Linked DNA regions of Homo sapiens: region 1 is linked to region 2. A link means that fine-mapping ties the variant in region 2 to the expression of a gene that starts in the linked region. Tissue or cell type: thyroid. Region 2 holds a variant in brackets; the other region holds the start of a gene. All regions are shown on one strand. Distances are from middle to middle.

Region 1 (2,973 bases), 36 kb after region 2:
TGAAATCGCCTAATTAGGGTTCTTTTTAAAAGAAAAGGAAAACTCTGAGCAAGCCAGAATGATTTGGAGGAAAGAAAATCGTGAAGTGGGGTGGAGATTCCGCCACTCGGGGTTGGATTTCAGTTGCAACCGGAGCTAACCGGTAAGCCCACTCTTAATCAGGGGGTCTTCCTCCTCTTGCAAAGTTTAGGTCCATCCACAGGGCCACTTGGGCTGGGGGTGGTTTAAAAATGTACACTTTTGAGGCACGAAGACTGGGTGCAGGAGAAAGTAAGCTGTTAAGAAGTAAGAAGGCACGAGGACCAAAGGCACGAATTTGCTTCCACGCCACGGCCCGGGACCCAGGGTGCGGGGACCACGCGGAGCGCAGCAGAGCTCAGGGTAGGAGCCGGGAGGCCGCGCAGGCAGAGCCCGGGCAGGGCGGAGGGGAGGCCGCGGAGGGCCGGGTGGAGGTCCTTACCGCCAGCCCCAAGGTCTGCAGCATCTCTCTCTGGTCTTTGTCCCCAGGGCCGATGTGCCTCCGAGCGAAGTCGTCGTGTCTGGGCAGAAGGCGCTCCAGGAGGCGCGAGGCCCCAGCCGCGGCGCTGTCCCCGCCGCCACTGCTGCTGTCCCGGCTCCGCGGCGCCCAGCACGGCCCCGATCCCCCAGCCAGGCGGCGGCCGCCCCCGACCCCGCGGCCCAGGCGCAGCCCCCACGCCCTGGCACAGGACTGCATGGCCGCGGCCACCGTCCCCTGCCCCGGCCCGCAAGGGTCAGCCGCGCTCTTGGCCCCTCTCCTGGCCTCGGTCCCCCGGGTGGCGGCTGCGCCCGGCCTGGAGCCCCTTTCGCTGGACAGTCGGCCGGACAGATGGATGGACGCTCGCGGGCAATGAATGGGCGCTGCGCTCAACCAAGACACTCGCGCAAAGTTGTGGCTCCACCCAAGGCACCTGCTCCGCACACTTTAAGCGGCGCCCTGGAGGCGGGAGGTGGGTTGGGGCCAGGAAGCCCTTGGCCAATGAAAGTAGACAGAGGGGGAGGGGGCGGAACAGTTCCCGCCCCCGCCCCCTCTTCCTACCCTCTTCCCAGCCCTTCCGTGGAGTCCCGCTTCCCCTGGACCGGAGGCTGCCATCTCCAGTCCTACCCACTCCGACGCTGGCTGGTGCCGGGGGCCGGGACGCTCCGTACGCCGCCCGCCAGGGTGTGGAGCCGCACTGGGGCAAGATCAGGTGGGACAGCCCAAAGACTCCGGGCCAAGTTCCTGGGGGACTCGGCGGAGATGGAAGATGATTCTCGAAGCTCTCCATTTCCTTAATTTTGAGGTATCTTTCTCTGTCACATTTCATCTCAGGGAAATTAATATGGGCAGATGGCGGTTCTTTTATCTTTGCGGGAGCGTGATAAAGTTACTCAACCTCTCAGAGCTTCAGTTTTCTCATCTCAACAGAGCTGGATGGGATTTTAAAAAGAGATTATATGTACATGGAAAGCACTTGAACAGTAGATTTGAACACCCTCTCTATATTTCTTTTCTTTTCTTTCTTCCTTCTTTCTCCTCCTCCTCCTCCTCCTCCTTCTTCTCACTCTCTCTCTTTCTCTCTCTTCCCCCCCACCACATGTAACGCTATGGCTCACGCCTGTAATCGCAACACTTTCGGAAACCGACGCGGTAGGATAGCTTGAGCCCAGGAGTTCGAGACCAGCTTGGGCAGCATTGTGAAACCCTGTCTCTACAAAAAATACAAAAATTAGTGGGGCGTGGTTGCGTGCTTCTGAAGTCCCAGCTACTCTGGAGGCTGAGGTGGGAGGATTGCTTGAGTCAGGGAGTTTCAGGCTGCAGTGAGATGTGATCGCACCACTGCACTCCAGCGTGGGCCACAGAACGAGACTCAGGAAAAAAAAAAAAAAAAGAACTGTGTGTGTGTGTGTATATGTTTTTTTAAATATATGTACTGTATATACATATACGTGTGTGTGTAAAACTACAAAGGATATTTTGTTGTTGTTTTTGAGACGGAATCTCGCTCTGTCGCCCTGGCTGGAGTGCAGTGGCGCGATCTTGGCTCACTGCAACCTCCACCTCCCGGGTTCAAGCGATTGTCCTGCCTCAGGCTCCTGAGTAGCTGGGACTACAGGCACGTGCCACCACGGCCGGCCATTTTTTATTTTTATTTTTAGTAGAGACGGGGTTTCACCGTTTTAGGCAGGATGGTCTCGATCTCCTGACCTCGTGATCCGTCATTACAGGCGTGAGCCACTGCGCCCAGCAAAAGTACAAAGGATATTAAGATAGACATTGTTCACTGTCGTCTTACTTTGAAAGTTAGCCATCTAGAACTGGATTTTTTGTAAATGTACCATCTCCAGCTGTCTCATGACAGTTTTAGCAAGAGAATGAACTTTTAAAATTCCAGTTGTTCTAATATGGGGAAGAGAGGACAGAAGTAATCAGAACATTACTTGTACTTAGACTAGGGGAAAATAAAACCTGTTCTCTTTCTTGCTTATCTGCTAAGTTTCCTCCTCCAATCACCCTTAACAGATTCTGGGCTCCGTACCCAGGAGGCACAGACTATCCAGAGAGGCAGGAAAGTAGAGATGGAAAAGAGGGCAGGAAAATACACCACAAAGAACAGTAGGTAAAATGTCTGTATGGCAGACGGAGGCGGGTGGTGAGCTAGGACGGCTGGGCTGAATGTCTCCGAAAAGTTTTTCGGCCATTTGGAATTGAAATTACAACCTTCATAAAAGTTGGGAGATCTCCTCAGTGCCAGATGGTGGGGGTTGTGGGGAAGGATTGGAGGGAGGAGGTAATCTGCATTTATTCCTATTCCTGTCTATGTTGTTTCTATGTATCAGAGGGACTGGAAGCCAGGGAACAATAATTCCCAGATCCCTTTGGCTCCGTGGTGATGGATGTTATTTGCCTTCTGCCAAAAAAAAACATGTATATATACACACATATATGTATATGAGAATTGGGGCCGGGTGCGG
Region 2 (2,752 bases):
GAGCGAGACTCCGTCTCAAATAAATAAATAAATTAATAAATAATAAATAAATAAATGAAATAAGATAAAAAGCAATTTTTTAAAAAAAGAGGGAAGATGAAAATTAGCAAAAAGCTGAGAATAATAACCAGAGAGGTGGGTGGATGGCACTCTTTTGTGGCTGTGTGTCCCTGACAGAAGGGAGAACCTGAACCCACCCCCAACGGCTGCTCAGGAATCAGAAAGGCCTATGGCTGGAATGCACCAGAGGCCTCTAAACTTGCTGACCAAGTATGGAGCTCACTCCCCACCCCAACTCTGCATAAGCCAAAAAAGAGGCTTACATGGGCATTCAGGGCTAGGAGCACAAAACCTAAGACACGGCCAGCATGTGTGCGTCTTTCCCAACCAGATGGCCATCTACATGAGAATTCCACCAGGAAGGTACACTCCTAAGTACTGGCAAGGCAAATAAGGGAAGCAGAAGAAATGGAGAACCATCCTGATTCAGTAAGTCCACTTCCAGAAATGGCTCTTCAGGAAATAATCAGAAGTTTTGACAAAGATTTATTATAAGGATGCACATGAAGTACTATTAATAACAGTAAGAGACGGAAATAAACTATATGTGTAATAGACGAGAGATTAAATAAATTATGGCACTTCCATGTAAGTGCCATGGAGATAATAGAAGTCCTACTCTATGGGCCTGAGAATCCACCCTTGACCACAGTGCCAGGACCTTTGTCACTACCCTCTTACAACCCCACCAAACAGAGACCCTCATGCCTTTACACTCAGCTATGCTGCCAAGGTTTGGAACAACGGAGAGGCTCCCGGGCACTCAGTCATGTGTGTGTGTTATGGGGGAGATCCTCACGTCTGACCCACACCTGCCCTTGAAACACCCTCACCCCCACCCCCAGCCACATCTATCCAAAGTCCACTCCTAATTGAGCTTCCCCCTCCCCTGCTCCCGCCCTCTGCCCTCCCAAAGCTAGGTGCCGAGTCAGCTGTTTAAGGTCACATTTCCACCCTAGCCTCACTGCCCTGCCTTGAGAGACCTCACCCTGTCCCCTGAACAACCCTGCTGGCCCACCCTCGCAGCCCCCAGGCCTGCGCTTGGCTGCTTCCCCAAGCCAGCACTTCCCAGTGGGGGACCTGGCACCGGCTCCCTGTCCTTCCTCCCAAAAATAGTCCCCTCACCAAATATGCAGATGTCTTTACCCCTCGCCTGCCAACCTCAGCCCTCCCGTCTGATCTTCCCCAACCCCAACCAAAATCCGGGTGGAGACACCAAGAAGGACCCTGAGAGGAAATATCCAACCTCTAGGTTTTTGAACCTGTTGAGTTTTTCAGTTTCTCTGAAAAGTCATACTCTAGAAAGCTGACTAAAGTAATATTCACAATATACTATAGAAAGAAAACAAGGCCAGGCGAGGTGGCCCACAACTGGAATTCCAGCACTTTGAGAGGCCTCTCACCTGTAGCACAGCTGCAGTGCCTCTGCGGCTGCAGTCCCCTCATCCAGCAGGGATGCATTGGCCATGTCCAGGCCTGTGATGTCACACACCATGGTCTGGTAGTTGAGTAAACTCTCCAGCCTCCCCTGAGACAC[C/T]TCAGGCTGGTATGGAGTATACTGGGTGATCCTGCAAGGGAAACAAAAGGTCTTGTCCAAACTGACTGCTGTTTAGAGAAGCACACAAAATGCTATCATTTCAGAATTCAGTACCTGAAAATAATTTGCCTATCTTGAGGAGAATTACATAACACACCAGTAAGCTTCTTTTTGGCCTTTGTAAAGCTTAGAATTAAATCATAGTAACAATATTACCCTTTGTTTGGGGATAAGCAGTACTTATTTTTCTATCTCTCTGGTGTTGTTTTTTTGTTTTTTGTTTGTTGGTTTTTGAGACAGGGTCTCGCTCTGTCACCCAGGCTGGAGTGCAATAGCATGATCACGACTCACTGAGCCTCAATGTACAAGGCTCAAGAGATCCTCTGGCCTAAGTCTCCAAAGTGGCTGGGACAACAAGCACATGCCATCACGCTCAGCTAATTTTTGTATTCTTTGTACAGCCAGGGTTTTGTCATGTTACCCAAGCTGGTCTTGAACTCCTGAGCTCAAGCAATCCACCTGCCTCGGCCTGCCAACATGCTGGCATTATAGGCATGAGCCACTGCACTTGAGGCTACCTATAATATCATAAACAGAAATTTCATTTGCTATTATCTTTCCCCTAGATAAAAGACCTCATTCACATTTTACAATAGGAAAGCATCCAAGAATCTAACATGTAATACTCAAACATTTTATTTATTTATTTGGATATTTGTTTTATGTTAACCAGGAGAAGTTCTACATGCTAAGAAATTAATAGAGGTCTACTTAAGAATTCTCATTATCCAGTTACTAAGAGTCCATGGCAGTTAACTCTATGGCTATTGAAATTCCAGGATGGAAATGTTTAGAAGGCAACGTAAACATGGATTCTAACTTTATCTCCTTCAATTATTAGCCAAGAATGTGGCTTTGGATATGTCAGTTAGCCAATTTAGTTCCTTCATCCTTACAGGCGAGAGCTACCACACCTCACCTATTTTACTTGGGAGGTCAAGGCGGGCGGATCACGAGGTCAGGAGATCGAGACCATCCTGGCTAACATGGTGAAACCCGTCTCTACTAAAAATACAAACAATTAGCCAGGCGTGGTGGCACGTGCCTGTAGTCCCAGCTACTCAGGAGGCTGAGGCAGGAGAATCGCTTGAACCC

Evidence for each region. PIP is the estimated chance that this variant, and not a neighbour inherited with it, causes the effect.
Region 1: GLDC starts here. The variant in region 2 is fine-mapped to the expression of GLDC in thyroid (GTEx, PIP above 0.99).

What each region holds. Positions count from the first base shown.
Region 1 is chr9:6,644,785-6,647,757 of GRCh38, forward strand. GLDC (glycine decarboxylase) reads right to left here and starts at 945. Exons shown (of 25, transcript NM_000170.3): 1 at 461-945. The coding sequence starts at 715. RefSeq lists enhancers at 155-712, 1,693-1,802, 1,853-1,952, 2,939-2,973 and silencers at 393-462, 503-702, 773-1,022.
Region 2 is chr9:6,608,729-6,611,480 of GRCh38, forward strand. GLDC (glycine decarboxylase) reads right to left here. Exons shown (of 25, transcript NM_000170.3): 4 at 1,464-1,628. Among named protein-coding and RNA genes, the nearest start is that of GLDC, 36 kb to the right of the region's middle. The variant C/T (reference allele first, on the strand shown) is at 1,598.